Regions from separate parts of the Homo sapiens genome. Here all the other regions are linked to region 3. Evidence: fine-mapped expression QTL. A gene starts in region 3. Each other region holds a variant in brackets. All regions are shown on one strand. Distances are from middle to middle. Region 1 overlaps FBXO10 (F-box protein 10). Region 2 overlaps FBXO10 (F-box protein 10). Region 3 holds the start of FBXO10 (F-box protein 10).

What was found. PIP is the estimated chance that this variant, and not a neighbour inherited with it, causes the effect. A credible set is the group of variants that fine-mapping cannot tell apart.
Region 1: its variant is the best candidate, but not a certain one, in a credible set for the expression of FBXO10 in blood mononuclear cells (TOPMed, PIP 0.74).
Region 2: its variant is the best candidate, but not a certain one, in a credible set for the expression of FBXO10 in whole blood (TOPMed, PIP 0.78).

The regions. Positions count from the first base shown.
Region 1 is chr9:37,532,416-37,536,654 of GRCh38, forward strand. The region is part of intron 3 of FBXO10 (F-box protein 10); the gene reads right to left. Among named protein-coding and RNA genes, the nearest start is that of FBXO10, 42 kb to the right of the region's middle. The variant TGA/T (reference allele first, on the strand shown) is at 2,272.
Region 2 is chr9:37,539,072-37,543,310 of GRCh38, forward strand. FBXO10 (F-box protein 10) reads right to left here. Exons shown (of 11, transcript NM_012166.3): 2 at 2,113-2,703. The coding sequence starts at 2,697. Among named protein-coding and RNA genes, the nearest start is that of FBXO10, 35 kb to the right of the region's middle. The variant C/G (reference allele first, on the strand shown) is at 1,649.
Region 3 is chr9:37,574,344-37,578,582 of GRCh38, forward strand. FBXO10 (F-box protein 10) reads right to left here and starts at 2,037. Exons shown (of 11, transcript NM_012166.3): 1 at 1,868-2,037. RefSeq lists a silencer at 1,691-2,070.

The sequences.
Region 1 (4,239 bases), 42 kb before region 3:
TCAGCCTCCCAAATAGCTGGGGCTACAGGCTAATTTTTGAATTTTTGTTTATTTTTATTTTTACTATGGATGTGGGCTGGAGTAATTTTGTTGTTAACTTTTCTATTTTTTGTAGAGATGGAATCTCACTATGTTGCCCAGGCTGGTCTGGAACTCTTGGGCTCAAGCAATCCTCCCACCTTGGCCTCCCAAACTGCTGGCATTACAGGCATGAACCACTACACCTGGCCCACACTGGTCCTTTAACTAAAACCTGGACCAAAGCTTGGCCCTGTGCTCTATATTCAGAACCTGCAAGCAGCATAGCTGGATGATGGGATAGAAAGGACGCTTAGGGGAAGATGGGACTGAGTGGTCTTCAAACTTTACATGCACTAAGTTTGCATGAAGATTTCCCCAGGGGTCGAGGGTGCAGCTACTTTTAATGAAATAAAGTTCCAGGTCCACCACTTCCAATGCACCTTCACTAAAATCCACCTGTCTGAGACGGCACGGACAGTAAGGTACCACACAGGTTCTCCTCTCCCACCTTCCCTTCCACTTTATAAAACAAAGGCCTGTTCTTGCACATCCTAAATCTTTCATGGTGTATCACCCTGGGGTGGAAAACTACTGAGACTCCAAATGAAGGGATGATTAGAGATATTGGTATAACAAAGCCTCCTTCAAACAAGTTCCCATAACCAGCAACCTGCTAATAAAGGGATATATTTCCAATTACATTTTCTTTTTATGTTTAATAAGTACAGTTGTCTCCCCCATGTCTGTGGGTTCTGCATCCATGGATTCAACCAACTGTGGATTGAATATACATTATTAAAAATAATAAATAATAAAATTGAAAAACAGGCCAGGTGTGGTGGCTCACGTCTGTAATCTCAGCACTTTGGGAGGCCGAGGTGGGCGGATCACTTGAGGTCAGGAGTTTGAGACCAGCCTGGCCAACACGGTGAAGCCTCGTTTCTACTAAAAATACAAAAACTAGCCAGGCATGGTGGCAGATGCCTGTAGTCCCAGCTACTCAGGAGGCTAAGGCAGGAGAATCTCTTGAATCAGGGAGGCAGAGGTTGCAGTGAGCCGAGATTGTGCCACTGTATTCCAGCCTGGGCGACAGAGTGAGACCTTATCTCAAAAATAAAATAAAATTGAATTAAAAAAAACAACAACAGTATAGGCTGGACGTGTTGGCTCATGCCTGTAATCCCAGCACTTTGGGAGGCTGAGGCGGGCGGATCACCTGAGGTCAGGAGTTTGAGACCAGCCTGGCCAACATGGTGAAACCCCATCTCTACTAAAAATACAACAAATTAGCTGGGCGTGGTGGCTCATGCCTGTAGTTTCAGCTACTTGGGAGGCTGGGGCAGGAGAATCGCTTGAACCCAGGAGGCAGAGGTTGCAGTGAGCTGAGATCACATCTTTGCACTCCAGCCTGGGCTAAACAGTGGAGACTCCGTCTCAAAAAAAAAAAAACAAAAAAAACACAACCAACAAACAAAAAAACCCAGTAGAAGAGCTATTTACATAGCATTTGCATCGTATTGGGTATTATAAGTAATCTAGAGATGACTGAAGTGTGGGAGGATGTGTGCAGGTTAGGTGCAAATACTATAACATTTTATATAAGGGATTTGAGCATCTGTGGATTTTAGTATCCTGGAACCAAGCCCCCACGGATACCAAAGCATGATAATATATAAAAAATCTGGAATGTTTATCTATGCTGTCTTAAACAATTATAGATTAATAATAAAATATATTATTATAAATTGTGTACTACTAATAATATATTGCATTAGGACAAAATTCTGTGAAGACTAAAGTAGAACAAGAGTATAAATGGTAAGGTTTCAGCTTCTGCTTAGGATGGAGAAAGTAGAAAGAATATACACAAACATGGACTTTCTGGTGGAACCCATCAGAGCTGAGGCTGCTGGACAACCGGCTAGCCTGAATGCTACAAAAAGACAGGTGCCTTTCGGAGCGTGCAGTGAGCCCAGATCGTGCCACTGCAGTCCGGCCTGGGTGAAAGAGTGAGACTCCGTCTCAAAAAAAGAAAGACAGGCGCCTCCAAGGAGACGAGGCCTGAGCACTTCCCTGCTGAATGCAGGGCTGCATGTGTCATACAAGCCAGTAAGAACTCAGCTAACATTTTCAATGCACTGTTAAAGACCAGCTGTGAATTAGTGTGAGTGCAGAAACTCTGGGAGTAGCTGCACCTGTTCACTTCTCTGTGGCCTTCACTAGGTGTTCATGGAGAAAACTGGGGGCAGA[TGA/T]GAGACTGGAGACAGCACCCTCCTGACGCAGGCTGGGGACAAAAGTGAGAGAGGCATTAAGCCCCTCTCCTGTGTTCTTTCCCCCTAACTCTCTTACAAAACAAACCGTATGCACAGAGAAACAGCGGGAAAACACTCTTATCTCTGGGGGTGTTGGGAGGAAAGTGACTTAGGCCCAGATCATCAGAGGTCCCCTAGTGCTGGGGGTAGAGCCAGGGTCACTGAAAAAGTCCTGCTCTCAAGACCACAGACACAGCACCTACCTAGACTAAGGATGACCCAGGACAAGAGAGAAACCCTGCCATCACGTAGGGTGACAAATAATGGCAGTCTACTGCTGAGGGAGGGCGAGAGCAGCGGAGATCGCCTCTGAGCAGCAGGCACAAAGGAAGATCTGAAGCGGAGAAAACTAGCACGAGGTAATGCTGGAGAGAGCTGAAGCCTACGGGACGCTGAGGATAATCCTATCATCACCATAATTCAAACGGGCTCAGCTCCTAACTAGATCGACCTCCTAAGAGCCAGGCAAAAGAAGAGGTGTGCCCATTTCCAAACTAAATACTACAGAGCTCAGTCCCCACTGTCCTACATGAGATATCTGACTTCCAACTAAAATTTATGACACATAAAGAAGAAAATCACAGTCGGTGACACTTCTTTTTTTTTATTTTTTTTTTGGAGACGGAGTCTTGCTCTGTCACCCAGGCTGGAATGCAGTGGCGCAATCTTGGCTTTCACTTGCAACCTCCACCTCCCGGGTTCAAGCAATTCTCCTGCCTCAGCCTCCCGAGTAGCTGGGACTACAAGTGCCCGCTGCCATGCCTGGCTATTTTTTTTTTATTTTATTTTAGTAGAGACGGGGTTTCACCGTGTTGCCCAGGCTGGTCTCGAACTCCTGAGCTCAGGCAATCTGCCCGCCTCAGCCTCCCAAAGTGCTAGGATTACAGGCTTGAGCCACAGCACCCGGCTGACACTTTTCTTCTTGGAGCCTCAAGCAACCAGGCTCCTCCTGCCAGCCTTTACCCTCCTGGGATGTTCTAGAGGACAGAGCCAGGTGACAGCCTTCTGTGGGGGAGCAAGGATCAAGGCCTTGCTTGAAAGGGTGAAAGGGTGTGTCTCCCCTTACTTCTGGGCCTTCACACACACCTCCTTTGCCTCGCGTCTTCACCCTGCCGACTTAAGGGGCAGAGCCAGACTTTAACTAGAAAGCCATATTCTCAATAACTATGCAAGGAAGAATGCCCTCCTTGAGGGCTTGAGCCAGATCCTTTCATCGTGGTAGTCACGACAGCAAAGCTATTACCTTTCCCTTTTTATTTGGCCATTTTCTTTTATGTATGTGTACAGGAGTCTTGCATTATGCTTTCAAAGTAACATCACCTGAAATCCTCTTTGGAAGTGGGCTGGGTAAAACACAATTAAATTTAAATTAATTAAAATGTGATTGCTATTAACCATTTTAGAAGCCTGCAACACTCATGAGTGACCTTTGTACAATGTTCTTTAGTTTACTGAATACTTCCGGCATGGGACCTTCCAATAGCCAGTGAGAGAAGAAAAATAGGGATGCTTATTTTCATTTTACGAAAGTGAAGGTCATGTTCATAGTGAGTTAGTGGAGAGGTGAGACTCGAATCTAGGTGCTATGCCATGCTTTCTTCTGCATGGGCTGTCTTTCCCTTCAGAAGGCCTTCCTGTCATCAACCATTTACAGGATTTGCAGATTGTCCTGTGGTGCCCTAAGTCCCAGCACATAGAAGGTGTTGATTGTCGCAGTGGCTAGAAGGACTGTTCTTAGCATAAGGCCCAAATGTCTCAAGGGGGATTCCAGGTCTGGGTAAGGTAGCTTTTGCTCACCCCCAGCTTCATCCTTCAACCTAGCCCCACCGCATGGTTGAATTCAACCTCACACCCAGGCTCTGGCGTAGGATGTTTCTGCTGTTGGGACACCCTCACTCTCCACCCC
Region 2 (4,239 bases), 35 kb before region 3:
TCAGATGTATTTGAATCATCAAATGAGGGAGTATCTCATGATTCCATTTAATAATCCAGACGTACCTACCCCTTGAATAAGTTTTAAAATTGACCTTTGATAGATTGTCCCAGAATTTAAGCCCCCTTAACTTTTCTAATTTCTTCCTTATGGCTAACCTAATTTTTCCTTGCTATTTAAATCCATTTTCTCTCTAAAGATAAAAAAGCCAGCTCTCTGGAGATGCAGAGCCACTGCTAAGGTTCTCCTTAGAAGTCACTGAAAACTGCTGTGAAATCGCCTTGGCCTTTGCATTTTTCAGGCAAAGCCATCCCAGGCCCCCATGTCTCCTTTAGTTGAAAAACAATCATGGACTGAACACTAACTAATATATGTTATATGCTAAGCACTAAGCCACAGGGCAGGCTACAAACAAGTCTAACGCCAGGCCTCATCCCTTGAGGATCTATGACTATACTTCTGAGGGAGAAGTAGAGGCTGAAATCAAAATATTACTCTAAGAATAAATGTATTACAAAATGTGAAGGGTCTGGAACATTATTTCTTTCTAGAAACAAACTCTCCTTCTGGGCCTGCAGACCAGCACCAGAGAAGTTCATCAGTTCTTCTGAAATGCTCTAGGGCTAAAACACAAGCTTTTAAGCTTTCAGGTAACATAGCATGATGTAATTTTATAAGCATTTAGATGAGAAGGCCTGAATTTGAGATCTAACTTCCCTAATTACCCACTTGAGAAAGTTACTTACCAACTGTGACCTTCAGTAGCCCTCATTTGCAAAATAGGCATACCACATCTACTTCACCTACACAAATGTTTGCTGTGGGGGTCCAATGAGGTCACAGATGGAAAGTCACCTAGATTATGAATAGACTTTGGATCTTACTAAGTCTGAGACCTTGATGTCACTTAATCTTGCTGAGCCTCAGTTTTCTCATCTATAAAATCAGATGACATTACCTATCTCAGAGGCATGTGGAGAGGAACCCATGAGATAATGGCTATAAGGCATATGGCATGCACACACTACATCTGTCACAAATGACCAGTGGTATAAGGATCATTACAAACATGAGAGACAATTGTTATTGGCAATATACTTTTAAAAATCATATATATATGATTTTTTTTTTTTGAGACAAAGTCTCACTCTTGTCCTCCAGGCTGGAGTGCGATGGCACCATCTCAGCTCACTGCAACCTCCGCCTCCCGGGTTCAAGCGATTCTTTTGCCTCAGCCTCCCGAGTAGCTGGGATTACAGGCACCTGCCACCATGCCCCGCTGATTTTGTATTTTTAGTAGAGACAGGTTTCACCATGTTGGTCTCGAACTCCTGACCTCAGGTGATCCACCTGCCTCGGCCTCCCAAAGTGCTGGGATTACAGGTGTGAGCCACTGCACCTGGCCAAAAATCTTTTATTTTTTATGAGCAGGCAGGAAAGCGATATAATTTTTATTGACTACCTACATAATCCAAGTTTCTAGGCAATGTATAAGCTATAGACTGTTCTGCCAGGAACTACCAACACCTGGATACCTGCTTTACTTTGAACCATCTTCTGGCTCTGCATTCACGGAAGGAATATGTTGGACAAATATTTTCTAACCTTCTCACCATTGCCCTTGAGAACTAGCAAATCATGGTAAAAG[C/G]CTGCCCTTCCTTGATCCCACACAGGGTGGGGTTCATGTGCTGAAGGTGACTAGTCCTGTATAGCCTTTTTCCTCTGTGGCTCTCACTCTGGGCATGCCTCCATGAGCAGCTAATGGGCTCTCTGCTTCCTGTCACCAAGTGGCATGCTTCCAGAACCTGGCTTTCCCGCCGCTGCTAGACTGGTGGCTCCAGTTGGTCCAGTTGGAAAGGGAAGAGGTGCAAAAGAATTTTGGTTCCAAGCCCAAGCCATTTTTAAATACTGCTTTACCAAGAATAAAGCAGAATTCTGAACTCTACTGATCACTGTGCCTGTTTCTCAACTGGTTCAGCACTCAGAGGAGTATGAGTATAATAATAACTCTTAACTTTCAATTCCAACAAAAAAAGGGATTAAAAGCCCAGAAAAGAGGGCAAGCCTCTGGGGTCAGAACTAGAAAGGCCGTCTATTGATGTGGATACCCACCTTATACATGATGGGTGAGAACCAGGCTGGCGTGAAGACGAGGTTGCACAGGCGTGTGGTTGAGCAGTGCTGATCAATGCTGGCCAGCAGGGCCACTTCACCCAACTTCCCCTGCCCTACAATCTCCACAGGCACCTTCAAGATGATTTCACCTTGCTCTTCGTACACACCTGGGAAGAGCACAATTCGGTCATACAGGCTGGCCATGGCCAAGGCACTGCCCAGGCTGTCAAACTCACGGCCTGGCCCAACACTCAGGGTACGTCGTTCCCTCCTCCGGCGGAATAGAGAAAAGCAGATGGAAGACTCCAAGTCCAAGGCATTCTTGGTCCATGTCTTGGATGCAAGGTAATGCTGCTTGAAGGCTTCTCTCCAAGACTCAGGCTCCACATCTGGCTGGTTGGGCCAATTGGGATGGCGGCACTCGGTGCAACCCAGACACAGCTGCCGCCAGCGGGTGCTGTCGAGACTGAGGATCAGTTCATACCAGGCCCTGCATACCAGGCTGCAGCGGCCCAGGTCGGGAAGGTGCAAGTAGGCTAAGATCATGCGCCACAGCTCCAAGGGGAGGCCACCAGCCTCCATGGTCACCTAGGAGACAGACACAAAACAAAAGAGATTTCTGTCTATCCTACTTACCAGTCCCCCTTTTTTATTTTTTTGAGATGGAGTTTCACTCTTCTTGCCCAGGCTGGAGTGCAGTGGTGCGATCTTGGCCTCACCATAACCTCCACCTCCCAGATTCAAGCAATTCTCCTGCCTCAGCCTCCCAAGTAGCTGGGGTTACAGGCATGCACTACCACAACTAGCTAATTTTGTATTTTTAGTAGAGACCAGGTTTCTCCATGTTGGTCAGGCTGGTCTCAAATTCCCGACCTCAGGTGATCTGCCCGGCTTGGCCTCCCAAAGTGCTGGGATTACAGGCGTGAGCCACCACACCCGGCCTCCAGTCCCTTTCTTAAAATACCCCCTGCCATCTCCTGAGCCCAAGGGTGAGCAAATAAACAAGGCTCAGCCAGTCAGAGGACTCCATCCTTTCAATGTGAATCCTACTCTAGATTTTTCCACCAGGAATTAGCAAGGAAGACTCTCTTTTCTCTATGGTCAGATGTTATAAAGATATGACTCCAGGCCGGGCGCAATGGCTCAGGCCTGTAATCCCAGCACTTTGAGAGGCTGAGACAGGTGGATCACCTGAGGTTGGGAGTTCAAGACCAGCCTGACCAACATGGAGAAACCCTGTCTCTATGAAAAATACAAAATTAGCCGGGCATGGTGGTGCATGCCTGTAATCCCAGCTACTTGGGAGTCTGAGGCAGGAGAATCGCTTGAACCCAGGGAGGCAGGGATTGCAGTGAGCCCAGATCGTGCCATTGCGCTCCAGCATGGGCAACAAGAGCGAATCTCCATCTCAAAAAAAAAAAAAAAAGGATACGACTCCGGAACTGCCAGGTTCACCACCATGTGGAGGAAACCTTCTGGTATAAGAGCCAAACAGAAAGATGACCTTTAAAAAGAGGAAGAAAACAAGGTGAGCACATGTGTGTGTGTATCCTGATAGTACTGATTCCAGATTCTTAAAGATGTCTTGGAATCTACAGTTCTTCCTTCAATTTTGTAGGATATCCCAATGGCCTTCTACTAAATCCCCCTTTTGCTCAAGCTAGTTTGATTTGGGCTTCTGTGACTTGCAACTAGAAGAGTCTGGACTTCTAAGAGGGAACCCACCTTTGGCTGTTAGGGTCCTAGAGCTCTGGATCCCCTACACTCTCAAGGAAGAGACCTCTATCTCTTTACACTATTAGGAATGAGAACTGAGGCAGTGACTGTCCATCTGTCTGTCTCTGCTTGTTCCCAGATCAAGTAATTACTGTTTCCCCACGTGGGGCAGCCCCAGGACAGACTACTGCTGAGTCAGATGCTGTGGGTTTTGGTCCTGGCTCTGCCATTGGTTATCCTGAGCAGTTAATTGGTTATTCTGAACACCTATGGGCTGGCTGCCCAGCCATCTACCTACTTGCTTTTTCTGGAAAATCTTCTTCTCCCCTACCAGTGATTTATATCACATGATTATAGAGGTAAGGTTCCCAGCAGATGTATATGTAGAACAAAGGATCCCCGACCTCT
Region 3 (4,239 bases):
AAACTCATGGTGACCTGGTGACTGCTTGAGCATTTATTGCTTAACAGCTACTTGTGCGATCATAAAAATACAATTCCCCTGATAACCACGGCAACCAAAATGATGGCACTATGGTGAAGGCGGCTCTTCTCAGAAATCTAAAAACAATAATAGGCTTGAAACCAGAAAGACAAAGAAATCCAAGTGCTCCAGGGCAGAAGGAAATCCTTTCTTAAAAGCCCTGATAAAGCAGCTTTTTCTCCAGTCTCTCAAATCTCACCAGGCTCCAGCAAGGGCTCTGGAACTGGTGTGAGGGATCAGGAAACAATTCAGGCCTCTCTGTGTGCTCCTATCCCTGGAGGCCAGCTGTTATGAGGTAAGCTCACTGGGAGCTGCAGCTTATTGTTATTTTAAAATGTACTGAGAACGGGCAGGGAGATGGATATATATATAAAACATTATATAACCTCAAACTAACATAGCTAGCTCTGGAAAAAGCCCCTTGAGGACAGGGACCATGTGTGTCTTGTTCACAGCTCTATGTCCAGATCCTAGTAGGTGTACAAGACAGAGTAGGGGTTCCATATAGCTGCTGAATAAATGCGGAATGAGATTAGAACTGAGGGAAAGCACAGTGCCTGGTAAAAGGTCCATCCTCTCCACTACCCACTGCCAGCACTCTGTTGGGTCCTGAGCAAAATCAAAGTCCTGTCGTCCTTCTGGGTCCAGTCTCTCCATTTGCAAAGGAGACAGCTGGATTAGATGGTTTCCCAGGCATCCTCCAGCTCTGACAGTCAATCACCGTACTGTGTTTTTTTTTTCGGTGGCTACACATGCCTGGCACTTTTCTCTCCCCTCAGAGGGAATCTGATACCAATCTGCTCAAGTAAATTGATGTTCCCATCCAGCCTGACTCATATGGTAGGAACAACAGGTTCATATGCCAATTGTAAAAGAGAAGGCAAAGGGGGCCCAGAATGAGAAAAAGAAAAGGTCTTACAAACCAAAACGGCAGTTTTCAGGACTAAAAATATAGAAACAAATGTGATTATTCTGCTGAAAAAGCCCTTCACGTGGGGCAATCTCTAGCTTACTAATAATGCTTATATTAACAGCATTATCTACTGAGGCTTTTGTGCCAGACACTGTGTGCTAAACCCTTTACAATTAATCCTCCCAGCAACCCATGAGCTTATTACCTCCTTTTCACAGATGAGGAATCAATCTGGCTGAAGGTCACAAAGCCAGTAAGTGGCAGAACTGTGATCTGAACCAGAGCTAACTGACTCCAGAGTTCTGGCTCCTCAAATGACTTTCCCCTCTGTTCTTCACTGTAGTCCTAAGAGCGAGGCAGGACAGGGGTTATCACTTTTTGTTTAAAGATGAAAAAACCGTCTGAGAGGCTTGAGATTTGCATAAAATACACAGTGGGTGCCCAGCCCCATATTTGCCCCTTGAGATTTGCATAAAATACACAGTGGGTGCCCAGCCCCATATTTGCCCCTGCGTTCCTAGGTGAAGGCTCTTCCCATCCCAAGAGTCAGCTTCTTCTTCTTCGACTTTACTTACACACTCGAAAAATCTCAGGGCTGGAGGCACCGCGGAGATACATGCTCCGCGTCCGGTAGTTTTACGGGAGGGTAAACCAAGGCATAGCTCTCCGTCGGCGCGCCTGAGCCTCCGGATGCCGGGGGACCGCGGAGCCGCGGGCGGCCTGAGGGTACGCCTCATGGTCCTGCCAGACCCCTGATGCCCGAAGCCCGACCAGACGCTCAGCCTCGGCCAGGACTGAGCGGCGCCTCCTGGGTCGGTCGCCTGGGGAAGCGCCCCGGGTCCCCTCCCCCGGCCGCCCAAGTTCGCCCGCAGCCTCTGCGCACCGGCCGCTTACCTCACAGGGCGCTCGCCCACCGCGGAGTCCGGGCCGCGGCCGCCGGTGCCCTGGAAGCCACCCGCCGCCCCCGCTGGAGCCGCAGCAGCCGGTAGGATTGCGGCGTGCGGCCAGCCCCGCCCGGGGGCGGACAGCTGCCTGGGGATCGTGCGGAGCCGCCGCCGTCATGTGACGCGCAAGGCGGCGAAGGATGCCGGGAGCAGCTGGCTGGCCGGGGCTGGGCTTCCCGACCACCGCGCATAAAAGCTGTATCTGCAGGAGGGGCACCGGGAGGCGGGAGGAAGGCAGACGAGGAGGGGGCGCGTGGGGCTTCGGGTACTGCAAAGGCGAGCTTGCGGAAGGACGATTCAGGCTCGTGTTGCGTGGCCCCAGAAGGGGCAGAAATAGAACCAGTGGGTGGAAACTGCAGGGAGGCATGCTAAGGCCAATACAGTGTAAATAAGATTCCTGCGAGCACCAGTTATCTAACAGTATAAGGAGCAGTTTCCTGGGGTGCTAGGCACCCTGTAGATGAGCATGTAGGGTCTGGGTTCATTCACTGAACAAACTGACCATTGGCTACCTGCCAGACAATGTACTAGGAGTACATATTAAATTAGTTGTATGTATGGCGCTTAGCATAATGCCTGCCACAAAGTAAATGCTGTATGTTTGTTGCTGCTGGTGCCGTTACTATTATGGGCACAAAAGTGAACAAAGCAGATATGGTTCCTCTTCTCCTGAAGTTAATTCTGTAGTGGAGAAGGTAGACGGTAATCAAGTGTCATTTAAACCAATATGTGTTTAAAATTGTAGAAAATGCACGGAAGGAGCTGTAATTTAAAAATAGGGGCCAGGTGTTCATGCCTGTAATCCCAGCGCTTTTGCAGGCCGAGGCTGGAGGAAAGATCACTTGAGCTCAGGAGTTCGAGGTTAACAGTGAGCCATGATTGTGCCACTGCACTCCAGCCTGGGTGACAGGGCGAGACTCTTGTTTCAAAAATAAAACTAAATAAATTAGGGACCAAGGAAGGGTAGTCAAGGAAGACCTCTCAGAGTAAGATAAAGAGTTAGCCAAATGGAAGAGGGGCAGGGTAAGCCCTGTGAAAACTCTTGGACCAGGTGGGTTGGGTTGGAGGAGAAAAGATCGCTCTTTGTGGAAATGGAAAACGTCTAGCTTGTCTGAAGCTTTTTAACGGGAAGAACAATATAAGTGAGGTCAGAAAGGTAGGTAGGGGCCAGATCACGCAGCACTTAATAGGCCATGATAAGGATTTTAAAATTGTACGTAACAGGAAGCCATCGAAGGGGTGGAGGATTTGATACCTTTTAAAGCAGTATGTCAGCTACTATGTGAAGACAGGAGTTAAGGGTGGAAGCAGAGATTGGTAGCTTAACCTATTAACTGGGCCCGTGGAGGTGCTATTTATTGAAATGGGAACTATTGTAAGGGGAATATATTTGGAAGCGGGGGGAGATCAAGAACTCCCATTTGAACTTGTTAAATTTGACACTGCCAGTTAGAATGACTATTAACAAAAAGACAAAAAAATAACAAATGCTGGTGAGGACATGGAGAAAAGGGAACTCTCATACACTGAATTATACAGCCAGTATAGAAAAATGCATGGAGGTTTCTCAAAAAAGTAAAACTAGAACTGCCATATGATCCAGCAGTCCCACTGCTGGATATTTATCCAGGAATGGAAATCAGTATGTCAAAGGTATGCCTGGATCCCCATGTTTATTGCAGCACTATTCGCAATAGCCAAGATATGGAAGCAACCTAAGTCTTCATCAACAGATGAATGGATAAAAAGAATGTGGCATATATACACAACAGAATACTATTCAGCCTGTCATTTGCAGCAACACAGATGGAACTGGAGGTCATTATGTAAAGTGAAATAAGCCACGCATAGAAAGACAAATATCACATGTTCTCACTCATACGTGGGAGCTAAAAAGTTGATCTCATGCAGTTGGCAAGTAGAATGACAGTTACCAGAGGCTGGGAGGGGAAGGGGATAGAGAGAGGTTGGTTAATGGGTACAAACATGGATAGAAGGAATAAATTTTAGTGTTCAATAGCACAGTAGGGTGACTGTAGTTAACAATAATTTATTGTATATTTCAAAATAGCTAGATTTAAATGCTCCCAATACAAATAAATGATAAATTTTTGAGATGGATATTCTAAATACCCTGATTTGATCATTACGTATTGTATGCATGAGTCAAATATCACATGTACCCCATAAATATGTACAATTATCTATCAATTAAAAATAATTAATTTTGAGATGCCTGTGTGTCATCCAAGTGGAGTGATTAAAAAAGCAATTCACGGCTGGGCGTGGTGGCTCACGCCTGTAATCCCAGCACTCTGGGAG